3 linked regions of the Homo sapiens genome follow. The protein of the gene in region 2 interacts with the protein of the main gene of each other region in a biochemical or structural test. Each region holds a gene or a part of one and is shown on either strand. Other genes may lie near its edges. The genes, in order: E2F2, ATAD2 and E2F3.

Region 1 (7,164 bases), on a different chromosome or scaffold from region 2:
GGAACCAGAGGTTTGGGGGTTGGGCTTGGGAGAAAAAACAAGTCAAGACCTGAACCCCATTTCTGAGGGGCTCTCGACTCTGTTCATCCCTATGCCCCAGCCTCCTCCAACTGGAGTAGCCTCAGTCCTGACTCCCTCCCCTGCCTGGTTTCTCTTAGGATTTATGCCAAGGGCTATAGGTCAGCTCTTTAAACCCTGTAGAAATGGAGAGAGGAGGCTGGAGTACTCCTATCTCAGATCTGGAAGGAGTCCGGGATCCCCCTACTTAGCTCCCAGGGGACTGCCCTAAGCTAGAAGAAGTGGATATTGGGATCTCTGACTCAAGAGGAAGAATCTGAGGTTCCCTTTGGCCTTTACACCTCCCAGATGTCATTCTCCACTCTGCCCCGCATCACGTTCTCCGATTACTTCAGCAGGTACACGGCGCTCTTCCTCACCATACATTGGCTCTACCCCCAGCAATAAGCCTATTGGATGTTGCTCTTGGTCCGCCTCAGCCCTTGTGCCCATTGGATGTTGCTCTCAGCCCCGCCCCTGCCACTCACACCCACTGGCTATTGCCTCTGGCTCCGCCCACAGCACAAGTACCCATTGGAGGGTACCACTGGCCGCCCAGGCACTCACACCCACTGGATGTTGTTCTTGGCCTTCTTGCGGATGAGCTGGATGCCTTCCAGCACGTTGGTGATGTCATAGATGCGCCGCTTCTGCACGTCCAGCACCTCAGCGGCCCAGTTCAGGTCCAGGACCCCATCCTCTGACTCGCTCAGGAGGTAAATGAACTTCTTGGTGAGCAGCCCCAGCGAAGTGTCATACCGAGTCTTCTCCCCGGGGGATTTGGGGGCTGAAGAAGAAAGGGACCCAGTCACAGCTCAGGGAGGGGAGGGCCCGCCCAGGACCCTCGTCCATTGACCTAGGCTCATTAAGTACCACCTTTCACCACCCACTTTCCAGTTTACAAAGCAGTGTGAGCCAGGGCATCCATCACCACCACTGTCCAGACAGGGAACCTGATACCTAAGAGGGAAGGTGACTTGCTTAAGGTCTCACGGCCAATGGGCAGTGTTGGAAGCCTAGTGTCCTGACTCCTGGTTAAATGCACATTTCCACCACAGCTTAGGGCTGCCAGACCACCACCCACAACTACTGTCACTGTTCTAAGTGCTTTCCATGTACGAACACATTTAAGCCCTACAACACCCTGTAAGGGTTGCTGTACAATCATCCCCATTTTATAGATGAGAATACTGAGGCACAGTTTAAGTAATTTGCTCAGCTCACTCAGCTAGAAAGTGGCAAAGCTGGAATTCAAATCCAGGCAGTCTGACTCCAGAGTTTTCCTTAACCATTACCCTATCCTGCCACTTAAATGTCCGGAGTTTGGAATTAGAATAGGGTAGAAATGATAAGCCTGGATTTAAGAGCATTTTTATAGACACACACTTGCTTTTTCTTCCCATGTGAATCACAATGATTATCTGAGAAAAATCGGTCCTGTAACATCAAGTCGGGGAGGTTCATGAGAAAGGTCCCTTTCTCAATGAGGTTGATGTTGCAAGACCACATCTCAGCTGCAGCATCTTAAACCACGAGGGGACTTTTGTAATCGAGTGACTTCCAAGTCATATAGCAAGTTAGTGGCCAATCCAGTAATTCTGGAACCTGAATTTTAGAGTCTTAGGTTCCTCTGGAGGAGGACCAGTTATCATGAGCCTCAGGATCCTTCAAGACAGTGCTCTGGGCAGCCTTGACCAATCAAATGTAGAGGAAACTTTCTTGCCATTCCTGATCTAGCTGTGTCTTCTTTTACACAAGACAACTAAGGTTCACAACAACTAAGGTTCACAGGAGTGACCTGTCAGGTCGGAGCAGAATCCTACCTGGACCCCCAAAACTAGTGTTCCTCCCAAACACAGTTGCTTTAACTCCTGCTCTAACCAGGATTTTTTTTTTTTTTTGGAGATGGAGTCTCACTCTCTCTCCCAGGCTGGAGTGGAGTGCAGTGGTGCGATCTTGGCTCACTGCAACCTGCCTCCCAGGTTCAAGTGATTCTCCTGCCTTGGCCTCCTGAGTAGCTGGGATTACAGGCATGCGCCACCACACCCGGCTAATTTTTGTATTTTTAGTATAGACGGGGTTTCACCACGTTGGCCAGGCTGGTCTGGAACTCCTGACCTCAGGTTATCTGCCCACCTTGGCCTCCCAAAGTGCTGGGATTATAGGTGTGAGCCACCACGCTCAGCCTATCCAGGATATTGACTGAAAATATCAAGAGGCAGCAACCCCCTCCAACTTAGCTTTAGGAAGGCACCACCTGGGCAGCCTCTGGATCTTAAAAACCTTTGGGGTGGCAGAGACTGGATTAATCTGTGCTTCCCTTCCCTTTGAATCACTTATTCAGCTCCTTGTCTGCATGTGGGAGAAAGACCCTGGTTAGCCCCTGCTCTTCTGATTTAGAAAAATTTACCTTGACCTAAACATTAAAACGTTTTAAAAATAATAAATTCCCAAATAAAACACTGGTCATTGAGTTTAGATCATGAGAGCAGTACATGGTATGGTAGAAGTAGTGCGAGACTGGCCAGGCATGGTGGCTCACGCCTGTAATCCCACCACTTTGGGAGGCCGAGGCGGGTGGATCATTTGAGGTCAGGAGTTTAAGACCAGCCTGGCCAACATGGTGAAACTGTGTCTCTACTAAAAATACAAAAATTAGGCAGGGATGGTGGCATGTACCTGTAGTCCCAGCTACCTGGGAGGCTGAGGTGAGAGAGTTGCTTGAACCCCAGAGGTGGAGGTTGCAGGGAGCCAAGATGGCACCACTGCAATCCACATTTGGTGACAGAGCGAGACCTGTCTCACAACAACAACAACAACAACAACAACAACAACAAAAAAAAACACAGAAGTAATGCAAGATTTACATGTCCAGGCTCTAGTCCTGACTCCACTCTGAGACTATGGGCAAGTCACTCAAGCTCTCTGAGTCTCAAGTTGCCTGATTAGTAAAGACAGACAAGCCTACCTACCTGGCAGGATCAAATAATAAAATACGCAGGAAGCTTTTGTAAACTGGAAAGTGATCCAAATATGACTACCAGTGATTGGGCAGGGCACTGCCCTCTGCCCCTGCCCCACCCCACCCCAGAGGCCCCATCAGCACTGCTTACTTTTGGGGCTGGGGAGGCCATCCACTCTGATGCACTTCCCCTTGGGGGTTGGGAACTCAGGGACGACGGGCCTCCCAATCCCCTCCAGATCCAGCTTCCTTTTGGCCTTGGAGAAAAGGGGGAGAGAGAGGCAGAGTTTGAGAATCATTCCTCCTTTAGCCTTTCCCTGATGTGGGGCCAAAGCAATGAAGCCACTTAGCAGCCACCTCTGTGCCTCAGTTTACCGCCAGTCCTGGTGAAGCACTGCTGTACTTGATAGGAAAACATCAGTGACCTGAGAAGTGAGCTTTCAGGGGAAATCTTGTTTTCTGAAGGGCAAATAAAACTCCCATCCTCTGAGGCCCAGGCACTTGAGACCCTACCAAAGCCAGTCTGGCCAAGGGCTCAGAGCTCCTTAACCACGGGCCCTAAGCCGGCTCCTATACCTGCTCCTCACCCCACCACACCCAGAGGATGATACCAGGAGGAAGCAGTGGGTGGGGCCTAAACCACATCAGGGTGGGGAAAGGGCCCCCCTACAGAAGCAGCTGGCCCAGCTAGACTGAGTGCCCATCACAGTCCCACAGCTGGTCCTTATCAGGGCGGGGCTGGGCATCCGCCCAGACCCAGGGGACTTCCTGGCTCAGTGCCACAACCCAGGGAGGTGCCCACAGTGGGAAGCAGTGCAAACATCCCCACCCCCATGTTTGGGCTCCAGCTTGAGGGCCCCAGGGCCTCCTGAATAGACTGCATTTGCCATTCTTTCTTTGCCGAGAGGGGCAGACAATGAATCCTTCCCGTGTCTTAAGGACAAGCAGCTGAGGCCACCCCCCCCCTCCAGCTCCCCCTTTCTGTTCCCGCCAAGCTTGGGAAACACCTGCTGGGGAAATCAAACCACAGACCCATCTGCTCCTCTCCACCCTGTTGCCACCCGGGCCCCAATTAGGCCCAGAGCTGCACTGGCCCGGAAAGGGCCTCTCTCCTGGTTAGGGCTGGGCAGGGGCAGGGCAGGGGCAGAGCTGGGGCACTGGGACACTGGGACATAGGTCAGAGACCCATGCTTGAATCTCCAGCTCCTTCGCAGGCTCACGGTACAAGTTGGGGGAAATGTTACACATCTAAGGAGCCTCAGTTTCTTCCTCTGTAAATGGGGTAAAAATGCCTACCTCAAGGGGCTATTGTAAGGATTCAAGGAAGGCACTACCTGGGCAGCCTCTGCATCTTAAAAACCCTGGAACAGGCTGAATTAATCCCCGCGTGGCTTCCCTTTGAAGCACTTATTTAGCTCCCTGTCTGCATGTGGGAGAAAGACCCTGGTTAGCTCCTGCTCCTTTAACTTCTGTAAAGTTCTCAGCCTGTGTCTCAGCACACAGTAGGTGTTCAGGAAACACAGAGTCCCTTCCCTAAAATCTAATCTCGACCTCTTCCTTCATACATCCTTCTGGGGGTCATCGAGCCCATTTCTTTCCTCTTTCCAACTCTGGATCCCCCAGACACCCCTACCCTGGCTTGGACAGAGAGGCCTATTTTAACATTTAGTGGTGAGGTCATGCTCAGCAGGGCTGAGACTTCTAACTGCTGCTGAGCACAGCTGGGCTGACAGGTGTTGGAGGTGGTGACAGCTCTTCCTGCTGTCAGTTCCCCTTCCCCCACTCCTGCCCCCTCCAGGAAGTCTTCCTGGGCTGATGTGAGGAGCCCTGCTCCTTGGTTTGAGGAGCCTGGATATAACACTCTTGCTTTCCACCACTACCGAGACCTGGAAACCATCCAAACACTTTACTGCTCATTCTTGAATGAGTCTCTTGAATATTCCTTTTCTACCTTCCTAACTGGTGAAATCCTATATTCTAGAGATTTAGCCCCATGCTGTCACTAGAGAAAGGGCCAGTCACTGGCTGAGACCTTCCACATGCCCTGAACCACGCCCCAACATTCATCACTTCACTGAATCTTCCCATACCACTAATCCCCATTGTACAGCTGAAGTAATTGAGGCTTGGGGAGCTCCGAGGCCTCCATCAATCCTGACCAAGGCTGCACATCCTAGTATTCTTCATATATCCCCCAGCAGGAGCACCAAGGGCAGGGAGAGGAAGGGAAGCTCAGGTGGAGTTCTACCTGAGGCAGAGGTGGGGCAGCCCAGAGCCTCCCCAGCCACACCTGTCTCCCCCGCCAGAACAAACCAGAAAGAATCCCAGGAAGACCTTGAACAGAATATCTATGCTGAGCCTGTTACATGCTCGTAACAGTCCTACCACATCAGTATTGGCACTGGCTCTCGGAAGCCAAAAAATGGAGACTTACAGAGAGTAAGCACATGCCCAAGGTCACACAAAGGCCGGAGCCAGGGTTTGAACCCAGGCCTGTCTGACTGCAAAGCCATGTACCAGGCTGCCTCAGCTGCATCCCACACACGCTGCCCCAGGATTTGCTAGAATTTGGGCCAAGGCCTGGGCTACGCCCACCTGCCCCCATCACTGCATGTACTTGCACACACACACACACACACACACACACACAGCCTTCTCTCTTTTCTCACTCTCCTTCACCCTTATTCTGCACTCCCAGGGTCCCAATGCGGCAAGTGTCCCCCTAAGGATACCTCCCTGACACCTTTGGACAGTGCCCAGAGGAAAGTCAGCCTATGGCTTGGGCTGAACCTGCAGAACACAGGTGGCAGAGGACAAGCCCAGGAGGATCAGCATCAAGGTGAGGCTGAGCACAGGTCTTGGAGTCAGACTGGCCTGGCTTTGCATCTAGGCCTTCCCCTTCTTAGCTGGGAAATCAGTTGACGTCAAGTCACCTATAAAATGGGCATCATTGTCTCCACCTATGCTGAGGATTCAGTGAGATAGTGCAGCAAAGCGCTTTGCCCATAGGGAGTGCCCCCACCAGGGAGCTGCTAGCACTGATGTATGGGGAGCACCAGTGGGAAAAGGGGAAAGTTCAAGGGTGAGCTGAAAAGAGACTGCGATGAGGGGAGGAGAGCAAAGGCTATGGCCACAGCCAGAGGCCAGCTTAGCCCTATCCTGGACGCTCTTAGGCAGCCCCTTTGGCTGGATCTTCAAGGCCTGGTCAGGACGCAAGCCCACCCTGCCAACCCCTATGGAGAAGAGTACAGCTCCTTCCTCAGGCAGCTGCAGAAGTGCAGAGGGTCAGAGATCACCAGGCACAACCCCCTTACGGGCACCACGGTGAGGAAACTGGGACTTGGGGAAGAGGAATTGACTTGCCCAAGGTCACGCAGAGTGGAGCCTGGTCTCTCCTAAGCCCTAAGTCAGATGGTGGGGGTAGGAGCAAATGTAAGGGGTCGAACCTTGCTTTCAGATCCCAGCTCTGCCACTTCGTAGCTGAACAGCCTGGGATTCACTGTCTTGCCTCTCTGAGCCTACACCTCCTCACCTGACCTGCCTTGTAGAGTTGTGTGTTAAAATGTTTATTTTCTTTCATGCCTCACAAGAGGAAATCTGGAAAATGTAGACAAATTGAAAGAAAAGGAGGACCGGGCGTGGTGGCTCACGCTTGTAATCCCAGCACTTTGGGAGGCCAAGGCGGGTGGATCACCTGAGGTCAGGAGTTCGAAGCTAGCCTGGCCAACATGGTGAAACCCCATCTCTACTAAAAATACAAAAAGTAATCCCAGCTACTTGGGAGGCTGAGACAGGAGAATCATTTGAACCTGGGAGGTGGAGTTTGCAGTGAGCAGAGATGGCGCTATTGCAAGCCAGCCTGGGCAGAGCTTCCTGCAGGCGTGAAAGAGAATGATGCCATGCGCCTGGCCAGAGGAGGCATGCGATAAAGGGGCATTCCCTGAGCCTTCCTCAGAGGACTTGGAAAGAGCTCTGGACAGGGAGCCAGGAGATCTGGGTTGTGGCCTTCATTCTGCCATTGAACTTGGTTGCCATCCTTGGACAGTGCCTGAGGTCCCTTTAAACAGAAGCTCCACAACAAATCCTGCTCACCCTGCACTTTGCAGCCCGGCCACAAAGCAAGCGGCCACACCCAGGGTTGGGTT
Region 2 (7,449 bases):
GCAGTTGTGGTGAATGAAACCAATACCTCCCACCAGAGCCATCGTGATGGCCATGTTGCCCTCTGTCACAGTGTCCATGGAGGAGGAGATCAGCGGCGTCTTCAGCGTGATCTTCCAGGTAAGGGCTGAGGTGAGGTCCGCCTCATCAGCTATGAAGTCTATGAATCCTGGGAGAATCAGGAACTCGTTGTAGGTGAGGCTGTCGGCTCTGGCGAAGAGCTGCTGCGTGGTGAGCCCGTCCTCGGGCACGCAGCCGGTGCCCTGGCTCATCAGGTAGTCTGTCAGGCTGCCAGAGACCCGGCGACCCAACATAAACACCCGCTCGGCTGCCAGCCTGCCAGGGCAGGCTATTTTTTTGAGACTGGGTCTCACTATGTTCCCCCGAATGGTTTGGAACTGCTGGGCTCAAGCGATCCTCCCACCTCAGCCTCCCAAGTAGCTGGTACTACAGGCCCGCACCACCACACCTGGCTTTGTGTAGTGTGTTTAATAAGCTCCCTGGGGAATTCTATCTTTGAAGTTCTGGAAGCATTTTCAACTATTTTGGACTTCCTACCTCAGGGCCTTTGCACTTGTTCTTCCCATTCTCTGGAAAACCCTGCCAATTTTTTGATCGGCTGATTCCTTCTCATATTTTACGTGTCATCTAAAATGTCGCCTCCTCAGACTGATCTTTCTTTTTTATTTATTTATTTTTGAGCTGGAGTCCCACTCTGTCGCCAAGGCTGGAGTGCAGTGGCATGATCTTGGCTCACTGCAACCTCTGCCTCACGGGTTCAAGCAGTTCTCCTGCCTCAGCCTCCCAAGTAGCTGGGATTACAAGTGTGTGCCACCATGCCTGGCTAATTTTTGTATTTCTAGTAGAGACAAGGTTTTGCCATGTTGGCCAGGCTAGTCTCGAACTCCTGACCTCAAGCAATCTGCCTGCCTCGCCCTCCCAAAGTGCTGGGATTACAGGTGTGACACATGCCTGGCCTCAGACCTTTCTTTCTTTCCTTCTTTTTTTGAGATGGAGTTTCGCTCTTGTTGCCCAAGCTGGAGTGCAATGGCGTAATCTCGGCTCACCGCAACCTCTGCCTCCCAGGTTCAAGAAATTCTTCTGCCTCAGCCTCCTGAGTAGCTGGGATTACAGGTGCCCGCCACCATGCCCAGCTAATTTTGTATTTTTGGTAGAGATGGGGTTTCTCCATGTTGGTCAGGCTGCTCTAGAACTCCCGACCTCAGGTGATACCCACCTCGGCCTCCCAAAGTGCTGGGATTACAGGTGTGAGCCGCCCCGCCTGGCCTCAGATTGACCTTTCAAGTCCACTGTATGTTTCTCTCCTCTTCCTTCAACCACTCTGTATCACATGACCCTGTTTCATTTTCTTTATACCACTTGCTATAATGAAGTTACCTTGTTTATTTACTTCCTTGTTTATCCACTGAGTACCTCTTAGAATGTAAGCTCCATGAACCTAGGGTTCCTGGTTCACTGCTTTACTCCCTGCACCTCTAACTATGCTTAGAATAAGATGGGGGCTCAATTAAAATTTCCTGAATAAACAAATCAAATGAGATGGTATATACAGTATATAGTCGTGTGGTTTTTTTTTTTTTTGAGACGGAGTCTTGCTGTGTCGCCAGGTTGGAGTGCAGTGGTGCCATCTCGGCTCACTGCAACCTCTGCCTCCCAGGTTCAAGCAATCCCCCTGCCTCAGCCTCCTGAGTAGCTGGGGCTACAGGCGTGCACCACCACGCCCAGCTAATTTTTTGTATTTTCAGTAGAGACGGGGTTTCACCATGTTGACCAAGATGGTCTCAATCTCTTGACCTCGTGATCTGCCCACCTCGGCCTCCCAAAGTGGGGGGATTACAGGCGTGAGCCACCGTGCCCAGCCATAAATAGTATTTTAAAACCAAGTAATAGTAAACTCTGCTACTTTTTAAATTTTTTAAACTGTACTACTTTAAATATTGTTCCTTTCTTTTTCACCTATGTTGGTTAAACAATTATTTTAAAGTTTTTTTCTATTGTAAAAGTGAAGCATATTCATGCAAGAAAAATCAGAAAAATTGTTTGGGCATGGTGGCTCACACCTGTAATCCCAGGCTTTGGGAGGCTGTGGTGGGAGGATTGCTTGAGGCCAGGAGTTTGAGACCAGCCTGGGCAACAGAGTGAGACCCCGTCTCTAAAAACAAATTAGCCAGGTGTGATGGCACACACCTGTGGTCCCAGCTACTAGGGAGGCTGAGGTGGAAGGATTGCTTGAGCCCTGGAGGTCAAAGCTGCAGTGAACCGTGGCTGCGCCACTGCACTCCAGCCTGGGTGACAGAACAATAATCTGTCTTCCTGGGGACGGTAGCTCACGCCTGTAATCCTAGAACTTTGGGAGGCCAAGGCAGGTGGATCACCTGAGGTCAGTAGTTCGAGACCAGCCTGGCCAGCATGGTAAGACCCCATCTCTACTAAAAATACAAAAATTAGCTGGGCATGGTGGTGCACGCCTGTAATACCAGCTACTCTGGAGGCTTAGGCAGGACAATCGCTTGAACCCGGGAGGCAGAGGTTGCAGTTAGCTGAGATCATGCCACTGCACTCCAGCCTGGGCAACAGAGCAAGATTCTGTCTCAAAAAAAAAAAAAAAAAAAAAAGAACAAGAACCTCTCTCAAAAAAAAAGCAGGACTCCCAGTTAAATGCGAAGTTCAGATAAACAACAAATACTTTTTATATGTCCCCAGACATTGCATTCTTCATTCAGCAGCCACGCAGATTATTTTTAAAGTCGGAATAAGTCAAACCTCTGTTCAAAACCCTGAGATGTCTTTTCATCTCAGGGTTTGGATGGGAATTTGGGGGCTATAATAAAAGCCCTCAAAAGTTTCAAACTAAGACCCAGAGTCCCGTAGGACCTGCTCCCAGTGGCTCTGTTCTCATTGGCCTCGCCACTCTCCCCTTCCTGCTTCCCGCCTCTCTCTTCTTCCAGAACCATCTAACCTTTAGGCCTTTGTCAGACTTCTCAGCCAGACCTTCCCTAATCACCCTATTTTAAATTGCACTCTTCCCTCCCCCTTCCCTACTTTATATTTCTCTGTAATGCTTGCCACTTTAAAACTTTTACATTTAGTTTATTGTCTTTCACCTTCCACTAGAGTTTAAGTTCCATTAGGGCATTTTTGTTCTTTTTATTCACTGCTGCATCCCCAGTGCTTAGAATAATGCCTGGTACATAATAGAGGCTCAATATGTATTTAACAAATATTAAATTAATGAACTGTAGTTATCCAAATCAATAAATAGCTTTCGTTTATTTCGCTAAGAGCCCTCGGACATTCTGATCATTCAGCGTGTTACCTATTTCAAAGTAGTCAAGTAACTGCCATCTTAGAGAAGCCATCTTCTTGTATTCTGTGATAATAGCGAACGCTTATTGAGCACTTATTATGTGCAAGCACGGCTCCAAGGTATCATAATAGTACTTTAGGGCCTTAGGTATTACAATCGGAGTTACTTTCCGATTATATGTACATTCCGAGATACGTATAAAAAGTATTTGTTCTTTATCTGAACTTCACATTTAACTGGGAGTCCTGCTCTTTTTTTTGAAACAGGTTCTTTTTTTTTTTTTTTTTTTTTTTTGAGACAGAGTCTTGCTCTGTTGCCCAGGCTGGAGTGCAGTGGCACGATCTTGGCTCACTGCAACCTGTGCCTCCCGGCTTCAAGCGATTCTCCTGCCTCAGCGTGTGAGGAAATTAGAATGCAGGGAGGTGAATAATTTGTTCGAGATCTTCTATGTGGGATGATCAATGGCAAAGATGGGTACAGAACCCGCGTCCTTAACTAAACGATGGCACTCTGCTGGCTCGCTTTTAGCTCCTTGTGTTTTCTTTCTTTTTGGTGGTTAACTTGTTTTCGTCAAGCCCTCAATTATTTAAAAAAAAAAAAAGTTCTTAAGGCTCAAAGTCAAAACCTGTCAAAGGCCAAGTGCTTTATTTCCCTCCAGTCAAGGACTGGGCATTTTGCATTTGAATCCTGGATGGCGGGAAGCAGCAAGCAGGTGTCAACAGGGGTGGGGAGGAGACGCCGGACCCCACCAGCCAATCAGAGCGCGCAGAGGCCTCCCTTCCCCCGCCGCCGTCCCGCGCCAAAATTCCAAACGGGCTACGCACCGCTCCCACCGTCTCCTTCCGCCGAGCTCAGCGAGCCGGAACTATGTGAAGAAAAAGAAGTCAGCGTTTTCCCCAGGACTCTCCGCTCAGGTCCTCTATACTGTCGGCCTGTGTTCCTCTCCACGTTGGCCCGGCCTCCTTCGCTCTACAAATGGGAGGAGAGTTTCGAGCCTGCTGTTCTACGGTGGTGGCGTGGGCGGGACAGACGGCGGAGGGATTCTGGGCGCGCGCGCTGCGGCCGCTGGCGCGGAGCTTGTGGCGCCAGAATTCGGAGCGCGGAAGAGCCAGAGCTGCGAGCGCCTGGAGCTGGATCTCTCTCCGGTCGCGCACGCCGAGGCCAGTAGGGAGAGAAGATGGTGGTTCTCCGCAGCAGCTTGGAGCTGCACAACCACTCCGCGGCCTCGGCCACGGGCTCCTTGGACCTGTCCAGTGACTTCCTCAGTCTGGAGCACATCGGCCGGAGGCGGCTCCGCTCGGCCGGCGCGGCGCAGAAGAAACCCGCGGCGACCACAGCCAAAGCGGGCGTGAGTACGGGCCTGAGGCGGGCTCCCAGGGCGGTTCCCGGGGGGACTGCCGGCAGCCCGGCGCTCGGAGGGGCCTGGGGGTGGGCGGCGCCGGTCAGGGTGACAGTTGTCGGGGGAGAAGTGTGGTCGAGGACGAGTAAAATGGAAGCTCTCGGGATCGGAGGTGCGGGTCGGATCGCTGAGCTGAGGCTGGCCGGGAGAGGACTAAGCATTTGGTCACCACCTACTTTTACGCAAGAGGAAATCGAAGCCCGCCACAGCGGAGTGCGGTCTGGGGCCAAGCCGCGGCTGTTCGGCCGCCCGCACGACCCCCCACTCCCTGGCCGATCGATCGCCCAGGCTCCTGCCCTAGGTTCGCATCAACCTGGAGGCAACACGCATCCCCTGACTGCTTTCTGTCTGCGCCATAAACGTTGGGGGGGAGGGGGCACAGGGACAGACAGGTTGTAATTCAGGTTCTCTGACCTCCATTAACGATCCAGAGGAGTTCCGTAATAACAGCGCAGTGAATAATACCAGGTTGCATAATGTGGAGGGATGAAGACCAACATTTCATGTACGCCCCCCGCTTCCAAGCCTCGTCATAACCCTTTGAGAATGCGTAGTTGTGCTATCTCTTTGACAGATGAAGAAACGGATTCAAAAAGGTAAACAGTAAGGGGTAGATCTAAAATTGGAACTCAGATTGCCTGCCTCCTAAATCGTTCCCTTTCTATGCCGTCATGCTGCAGTTACAAGCAGTGTCTATAGGGGAAGTTTGGAAGGAAGGAGGGTCCTCTTGAAAGAAGTGCTGCTTCTAGGTCTGAAGTGCAGTGACGGTTTTTGCAGGGCAGAGTTAAAGCTGAGCAGTTACTCCCCTCCCATCCACCTCCCCACCCCAGCTGCTGAAAGAGGCCTAGGTGGAGGGGTTTCAGCATTCACAGAAGGTTGAAGAAGTCGGGGAAGCTCGCTAGTAAATTTAGTTAAGGCAGCAAGTAATATATAGCTGGACTGAAGGTGTTGGAGTGAGTGAGGGTAGGCATGGAGTAGGAAAAATAGGACCTGAGAGAAGGTTGGGAACTTGGGAATGAGAATGAGAGGCTCAGGGGAAATGTGTGGTGGAAGTGACAATGTAATCCTCTTCAGTTCAGCAGACGATTTCAGGGTCTTGTATTAAGTCTTCTATTAAGATCTTGTATTTAGATAACTATATAAAATTAGTTGCCAGTATCTTTTGTGGGCATCCCATTCTGGTTGCTACTCTACTGAGGGGAATGGGTTAAAAACTACACTCCCTTCAGTCTCTGAAATTGTGATTCTGAATTGAAAAGACAAGTAATTTCCTGACTTTAAAGATTTGTTTCTCAGTCATCTGCCAGGAATTGGCAGAGACCTGGAGAGGCCAAACACTTCTGCACTGGAATTGGTTACTTGACTTAACCTGTGTTCAGAAAATGTGTTTCAATACTGATTGATTATTTATGTCCAGGGTAACACTAGATCCTGTGAACATAATGATACGTACTGATATATTGAATACTGGTTAAATACATAGGCTCTTTTTTTTTTCTTCGAGACAGAGTCTCACTCTCTCATCCAGGCTGGAGTGCACTGGTGTGATCTCGGCTCACCGCAACCTCAACCTCCACCTCCCGGGTTCAAGCAGTTCTCCTGCCTCAGCCTCCCAAGTAGCTGGGATTACAGACATACACCACCACGCTGGGCTAATTTTTGTATTTTTAGTAGAGACAGGGTTTCTGTATGTTGGCCAGGCTGGTCTCGAACTCCGACCTCAGGTGATCCACTTGCCTCAGCCTCCCAAAATGCTGGGATTACAGAATTGAGCCACCCTGCTTGGCCAAATACATAGACTCTTAAGAAAACTGTTAATTATGAATTTCAGTTTCAGCTTCTCAGGTTTACCAATAATCATCAGGTTTCTACACTTGTTAAATGGGATGATACCCACCACATTGGTAGTGAGGATTAAATGTGATCATGTATGTAAGGAGATTAATTGAACAGTTAGCATATGGTTAGGATTCAGTCATTGTCAGCTATTAAGACCATCGTCAGTTTTAGTTAATGGCCACTCCGTTTTTTTTTTTCAGTTCCTCAGGAAAAAAAACCTTAGGTTGTTGTTGACTCCTCACATCCAGTGCATTAGCAAATTCTGTTGGCTCCACTTTCAAAATATATTCCAAGTCTGACCACTTTATATGTCCTCCAGTGTTGCCATGCTGGTTCAAGCCATAATCTCTTTCCTGGATTATTTATTTATTTATTATTTTGAGACAGAATCTTGCTCTGTCACCCAGGCTGGAGTGCAGTGACGTGATCTCGGCTTGCTGCAGTTTCCGCCTCCCGGGTTCAAGTGACTCTCCTGCCTCAGCCTTCCAAGTAGCTGGGATTACAGGCATGCGCCACCACGCCTACCTAATTTTTGTGTTTTTGGTGGAGACGGTGTTTCACTGTTTTGGCCAGTCTGATCTCAAACTCCCGGTCTCAGGTGATCGGCCCACCTCAGCCTCCCGAAGTGCTGGGATTACAGGCATGAACCACCGCGCCTGACCATCTTTCCTGGATTATAATAGATTCTTGATTGGCCTCCTTCCCGTTTTCCACTGTTTGATATATATATTATGCCCCACCTTCCCTCAACAGTCAGTTCTCTTTATTTATGCATTTATTTATTTTTGAGACAGAGTCTTGCTCTGTCACCCAGGTTAGAGTGCAGTGGCACCAACGTGGCTCACTGCAGCCTCAACCTCCCAGGATCAAGTGATTCTCCACCTC
Region 3 (7,164 bases), on a different chromosome or scaffold from region 2:
TGGTTCAAGTGATTCTCCTGCCTCAGCCTCCCGAGTAGCAGGGATTACAGGCACGTGCCACCACGCACAGCTAATTTTTGTATTTTTAGTAGAGACAGGGTTTCACTGTGTTGGCCAGGACAGTCTCGATCTCCTGACCTCGTGATCTGCCTGCCTCGGCCTCCCAAAGTGCTGGGATTACAGGTGTGAGCCACCGCACCCGGCAAGACTTACTTTCCTAGCGTTCTCCTCCCATATCCTCTCCCCATCTCATTGGGGGGGAAAATAAGACAAAAATTCTCCAACAAAGGCTTTTCTCCTCAAACCTTTTTCATTTCCCTCTCTGATGAGCTCTGCAGTGTGATTCAAAGGTGTGTGGCCAAGTGTCTCTGATGATCCAACAAGACAGTTCACAGCTTTGCTCCTCACTTTAGCTGGTTTTCAAAAATGCTGTAAGGAAACATTCTCTGCCAATAGCAAAAGCCTGAAGCGACTCCATAAGTGGGTGAAGGAGCCGTTTTTCCCAAATCATTATTTTCTTCTGCAAACCAGTCAGAATGTCTTTTAAAACATGTTACCTAATACCAATAGAAGTTTGTGTTTCTTGCCTAGGCTTGTGGTTCCAATACAGATGGTTCTAGTCACCCTCATTTTTAACATAGTTTCTAAAAGACAAAAGTGGAGTTTTTACCTTTGGAAGCGGGTTTAGGGATATTCCCATTGTGGTCTTGGTTGTTTGTTTTCATTGGACTGTGTGTTTCAGTCTCTTCTGGACATAAGTAAACCTCAATGGGCCCTTGGGTACTTGCCAAATGTATTTGTAGGCTCTATGAACAGAAGTGGGAGAAGTTCGAATCAGAAGTTCTTTTAGAAATAAAAGCCATAGTAATTCTTGTCTAAAAATGGAAAGTAAGAACAATGTTCGTTTTTCACTTGCTTTTTCCCTACTAGTCCAACTCTATGAAAGACTGTCATCCTCTAGAGCAGGGGTCAGCAAACCACAGCCTAAGGGCCAAATCCAGTTCACCAAGTGGCTTTGTAAATAAAGTTTTATTGGAAGAGAGTCACATCCATTCCCATTGTTTATTATTGCCTCTGGCTGTTTTCGTATCACAATGTCAGAGGTGCACAGTTGAATAGTCTAGACACAGGCTGTACGGCTCGCAAAGCCAAAAATATTTACTATCTACCTGGCACTTCAATGAAAAAGTTTGCTGAGTCCTGCCCTAGAGAAAGAAAACTATTTTAGTGGGGCTTGGGGGAGAGGGGAGTCATTCTGAAAATAGCACAATGGGTGAGGTGAATTGTGTTCTTTGGATATATTCTTTTTCTGCAAATTATTACAAGGTCCTTTAAGTGTTCCAAATTCAGTATCTCCATGTTATTGTTCCTTTATGGTAGGACTTTTTCATGTTGAACTGTATACTGATGAATAGTATTCTTAAGTGCTAGGAACTGCATCTATTAAGAGAATGCAGCATACCAACATTTAAAAATCTTTTTCATCTAGGTCAAAGAGCTATTATTATCTTTTAAGGTAAGAAGTCTACCCTAGATGGAAGCGTGTAACTTTCATTCTCTTTTTATCTCCTATGCATTTTCTTTTTACTACAACTCTTTATGTTATAGTTGTAGTCTAGGCCTCTATTATCCAAGTATATCTGAAAATTACAAAAATATGCCCCCTACTTTCTTGCAATATTCTAGTCTATCAGCTAACCCAAAGCCCCATGTGATCTCTCAAAATGTTATAAGTTAGGGAGAGACTTTAAAACATTTATATATCTGTTCGTGGTGGGGACCATATACAGGATAATCAATATAAACTTTCCAAAGTGATTCAAATTGATCAAAACCGTTGATGACAAATTATGAAAAAGAGAAAGTATGAGAGGGACAGCGCATCATATACCACTTTGAACTGAACATCCTGCTAGGTCAAAGTTAGGTTGTTTGAATACTCAATGAACATCAAACCATTGAAATGTTTTCAAATGTATGGTTAAGTAAAATAAATGGGAAAGAACCATCAAGTTCATAGGAGGGGGACAGACTTTAACTATGAGTCAATGAGTCATTCAATTTCAGGCATTCCACAAAGATCTTTGCAGATGAACAAAGACGCTGTCTCCTTACCTCTATTGAGTCAGGCACTTCAAGTCTTGTTTCTGGAGGGGCTTTCACAACTATAACAGTTTGGTCTTTAAGGCCACTAATTTTTCGAATATCTTGATATGTAACATAAGCTAACGTAAAGAGTGTCAAGGAATCTTCCATCTAATTACCTCAGATATAAGTATGATGAAAATGACAAAATAGATGCATGGAATATTTTAAAGTATTTTATGACTTAGAAGTATGCATATGTGGCCGGGCGCGGTGGCTCACACCTGTAATCCCAGCACTTTGGGAGGCCGAGGCGGGTGGATCATGAGGTCAGGAGATGGAGACCAACCTGGCTAACACGGTGAAACCCCGTCTCTACTAAAAATACAAAAAGTTAGCCAGGCGTGGTGGCGGGCGCCTGTAGTCCCAGCTACTCGGGAGGCTGAGGCCGGAGAATGGCATGAACCCGGGAGGTGGAGCTTGCAGTGAGACGAGATCGCGCCACTGCACTCCAGCCTGGGCGACAGAGCGAGACTCCTTCTCAAAAAAGTATGTGTATGTCTCCCCTTCTGGATGTGCAAATGTTTAGGGTCTCCCATGAATCTTCATTTCTGGTTGACACTCTAAACAACTAAAGAAATGAATAGCTTTATCCCGCCCATTTCTAAAAAGACTATGGCTATTTAAAATATTAAACATAGAAACAGAACAGTTAAAATAAATGATCATAAGAAAATAAAAAACTAAGTGGTCAGAAATTTTATCTTGAAGCCAGGGTCCTTTGCAGCACAGGCATTCCATGAACTCCAATAAAGTGTTCTGTCACTCAAACTGAATGATGGCAGATTCCAATTTGCAGGAAAAAAAAATGTAATCTCTATTAGCCATAATTTTTTTGAAACTCCAGTTACTTCTATCTACAAGCAAGTGTCAGCAGCCACCAAGTAAATAAATAAGTAACAAATACATTAGTGGAGGAACTCAGAATACTGCTCAGGCAGACAGCTTGTTTTCTTAAGTGCACCTGGGCTGGTTGTGATTATGTACTGCCTACAGAAAAGAGTGTCATTATTTCTGTTAGAAAAATTATGCTTTGCGTGATACTATATTAACTCTATCAATATTTCAGTGTTCATGAGGAAGAAAGCAGTTTCCAGGTGCTCTGCGACTTGAATGAATTTGAGAAACACTGATTTAGGAAAAGAGAAAAGTATAATATCTCAGTACTCTTGGTAGTTATTTCCTTTTTCTTTTTGAGACAGAATCTTGCTCTGTCACCCAGGCTGGAGTTCAGTGGCCCAATCTCAGCTCACTGCAACCTCCGTCTCTGGGGTTAAATGATTCTCGTGCCTCAGCCTCCCAAACAGATGGGACTACAGGCGTGCACCACCACACCCGGCTAATTTTTTTTATTTTTAGTAGAGATGGGGTTTTACCCTGTTGCCCAGGCTGGTCTTGAACTCCTGGACTCAAGTGATCTGCCTGCCTCCGGCCTCCCAAAGTGCTGGGATTACAGGTGTGAGCCACGGCGCCCGGCCTTGGTCATTTTTTCTAAGCACTGAACCATTCTTTTAAATGTCCTGACAGCCAAGCCTAAAAGGCTATCATGAAAGAATATGGTACTTACGATATGACAAAAGTATTCAATTAATGTACAATGTCTTTAGCCCGTTATTATTTTTTATATGTACCCACAAAAAATTCCTAGGATAAAACAGCAAGTAACAAACCAATGAAGGCATTTCAGCAGGTAGTATAACGTATTTAATGGCTAATAGAGTCCGTGATCTAATATGTTTAATATAAAAAAAAGGGGGGGCTTAGAGACCCTAGAATAAATCATGTCCCTTACGATAGTAGCTTCTTTTTTTTTTTTTTTTTGAGACGGACTCCCACTCTGTCACTAAGGCTGGAGTGCAGTGGCACGATTTCAGCTCACTGCCACCTCTGTCTCCCAGGTTCAAGTGATTCTCCTGCCTCAGCCTCCCGAGTAGCTGGGATTACAGGCATGAGCCACCGTGCCTGGCTGTAGTAGCTTCTTATTAGAAACTGAATGCAGCTATGGAACTACTACTCCAGAAAGAAAGCACATTCACACGAAATCTGCATACACATGTAGGGGATCTATCACAGACTATCTCCTTCAAATCTTTACAGTTGAGATGATGGCTAATTCAGTGTTGAGCTTGTAGTGGCTGCTCTTGCAGGATTCTGGGTTTTAGGTCACTACATAACCCATCAAAGAAGTCAACGGATGCCTTTATAGAGGGCCAGGCAGTTCTGATTTTTTACTGAGAACACTGGAAAAAACTGACAACCAGGTACTTACACTACAGCTCACTGTCAAAAAGCTGTATGACAAGAACTTATTAAAATAAAAACTCATCACTTCTTGGCCTTTTGGCTAAGATCAAGTGTAAAAGAAAAACTCATCTACGATTACTCAACATGCTGCAGGAAGGAAAATTTCAACACATTTGTGAACAAGCTGTACCAATTTGGGAACTGAATGGTGAACTGAAATAAATTGTGCAAATGTATTTTCTAATCTTACAAACTTAAAAGTGCTTCCTTTGTGGCTCCCTCCTGAATTTACTCCTTGGGTTCGAAGTTCCCTGCAAGGAAGCTTTCATTTTCTGCAACAAAGGCCCCAGAGAGAGCTAATATAGGTGACAATGCCATAAGCCACATGTCCCGGAAGGCTGCCAATCACATGTAACCACCCATCTCTTCCACAATGGGGCTCCCAACCAAACAATGAATGAAACAGCCCAACTGTTGGTTTCTTCCCCTGTAAACCCACTCTGCCAACCACTGGGGGTCCAAATCACTACGCCTCTCTTCCATCTCACTAATTATCGGCTGACAAGGTTAATTCTTTGGTCAACAGGAAATGAACAATTGCAGGTTTGAAAAACTGCCAACATTGGAAGAAAATAAATATCTCCATATTCTCCAAGGGGGAGCCTGTTAAAGATGAGACACTAGAAGAATCTGGGCAGAACACTTTTTAGTTTTTGTCAAATAATGGTAAATGTGCAATCATCAGAAGTTTGGAACTAAAACTAGAGATGGGATAACTTACAGTACTGTTTTTTGTCTTCTAATAACTGAGAATATTGGCAAGTCTTGTTTGACATAATGAGGCAATCTCTCTCTTACTTTGTCTGTAGTGAGATGATGAAGAGCAAGTTTTCCTGAGATCGTCAATAGATTGTCAGGAAGTTGAGAACAAGAACTGACCTTTTGTATTTTTATTTGCGAGGACTAATGTTTGTAGTGGAACAGAGGAATTGAGAGGGGTTTCTCAGGTCTTGGGGTGCTTTTGAAATCAGTTTTTTCATTGGGAATCAGCAGAATGCACTTTAAGAGTTATAGTATGATTTTTCTCTACTCTTTCAAACCCTTCAACTATAGCCCAATCAGATAGATTCAACCAATTTCAATTGCTACGATATCTGGTGAGAAGAAAATAGAATGTGAGAACCCCAACAGTGACAGCTAACACCCACCAAAAATCTGGGAAGCCAAAGACGAATCTGCTTAGTGTTGTCATTAATATTAATACCGACACCTTATGTATCTTTTAATAGTGTGGCCTTACGCTACGAGTATACCCATGTCTCAACCACACATGAAAAAATGCTTTAAAAAACAGTTCCCACCTGGTATCAAAATAGATAATAATAGGATCGAGTTGGTGACTATCTTACCATAAATACTGACTTTTTAGGCAAAGCTAACTGGGTTTACACACACACGTGCACACACACACACATACACACACAGGCACACAGGTACTCATTTGCATGACATCAGAATAATAATCTACCTTGTGCATAAGTCAGATTGTCAACTCTGGAAATAGTCTAGGAAGCACTAACCCCCAGAGAACTGGCGGCACAAAGGATATCTTTGATTCTCTGAATCCTCGGTTAACAGTTTGAGGTCCAGGGTGCAGCTTTGGATCAGTTCATCTAATTTCTTCTCTTCCTGACTGAGCTCGGTCACTTCTTTTGACAGGCCTTGACACTGGGCCAGCATGCCCCCATCCTCAGACAGACTGCAGCCCCTAGAAACCCAAACACAGACTCTTCATGGCTACTCATGGGAGGGAGGGGAAGGAGAAATGATCCTTTGGGTAAATGTCTCCTCTTGACATAGGAGGTCACATTGCTTGTTAGCCAAGTGTTAAAATTAGAACATTTACACATATATATATATATATATATATTTTTTTTTTCATAAATACAGTTCTGCACTTTTCACAGCATAGAAATTTAGTGAAAGCGCACTGCTATTTTCAGGATTCTTTCCTCCAGGGGAGGTCTACTTCTTCAGAAGGTTCAAATTCAGAGGGCAAAAGAAGGCAACCACCTTCCTCCCTTGCCTCATGGCTCCCAGGTGGTGGGGGAAGAAAGGCGAAAAAGGATAAAAAGATAGAGAAAGACAGAGAAGATGGAATGGTTCAAAATTAAAAAAAAAAAAAAACAAAAAAACAACCCATCCAAAAAAGCATCAAAAACTCAGGTAATTACTGAGGGTCTTATATCAACAACTAAAAAGAAAAGAAAGTAAAGGAAACAGATGTATGTGATGTATGCAAGAACTGAGACTAGTGCACAATATGTTTCTCTAAACCAGAGGCCAAAACGGGTTACCAAACTGTCAACAAAATTCCAAAATGTGCAAAAAAAGGTATGTATTCATCTTCCATCTGAATTAGTATCTTTTCAAAGCCCTCCTGTAACAGAATTATTCCTTCCAAAATGCTTTAATAATTCAATACTGTGCTTATAGTGGCTATTTAGATGCTCTAAAATTCACAAAATATATTACATATGTAATCATACGTGTGGCTGTATAAGTATCATGCTACCATCCCTGCTCTACAGACGAAATGGAGGCATTTAAGTCTTGCCTTAATTTACCCAGAAAGTGAGTTAATCTGCTATTAGAACCATGGATAAAGATATTCTGTAACTATGCAGTTGTACGTATACACATAGATAACCCATAAGCCATCATTTCCAGATTCTTATTAGAAACAAGCTGAAGACGTGTACACATCTGTCAGAT

Evidence for each region.
Region 1: the proteins of ATAD2 (region 2) and E2F2 form a complex in vitro, tested with the Homo sapiens proteins (one study listed by BioGRID).
Region 3: the proteins of ATAD2 (region 2) and E2F3 form a complex in vitro, tested with the Homo sapiens proteins (one study listed by BioGRID).

Annotation. Positions count from the first base shown.
Region 1 is NC_000001.11:23,521,213-23,528,376, forward strand, and holds part of E2F2 (transcription factor E2F2), read right to left. Parts: exon of another isoform or gene 6,193-7,164; intron 5,859-6,192; exon of another isoform or gene 5,718-5,858; intron 3,567-5,717; exon of another isoform or gene 3,377-3,566; intron 3,277-3,376; coding exon 3,171-3,276; intron 845-3,170; coding exon 625-844; exon of another isoform or gene 374-624; coding exon of another isoform or gene 360-373; intron 1-359. UniProt on the Homo sapiens protein: Transcription activator that binds DNA cooperatively with DP proteins through the E2 recognition site, 5'-TTTC[CG]CGC-3' found in the promoter region of a number of genes whose products are involved in cell cycle regulation or in DNA replication.
Region 2 is NC_000008.11:123,393,412-123,400,860, reverse strand, and holds the start of ATAD2 (ATPase family AAA domain-containing protein 2), read left to right. Parts: upstream 1-4,413; 5' UTR 4,414-4,503; coding exon 4,504-4,674; intron 4,675-7,449. UniProt on the Homo sapiens protein: May be a transcriptional coactivator of the nuclear receptor ESR1 required to induce the expression of a subset of estradiol target genes, such as CCND1, MYC and E2F1.
Region 3 is NC_000006.12:20,481,755-20,488,918, reverse strand, and holds part of E2F3 (transcription factor E2F3), read right to left. Parts: intron 6,158-7,164; coding exon 5,999-6,157; coding exon of another isoform or gene 5,970-5,998; intron 2,231-5,969; coding exon 2,116-2,230; intron 807-2,115; coding exon 671-806; intron 1-670.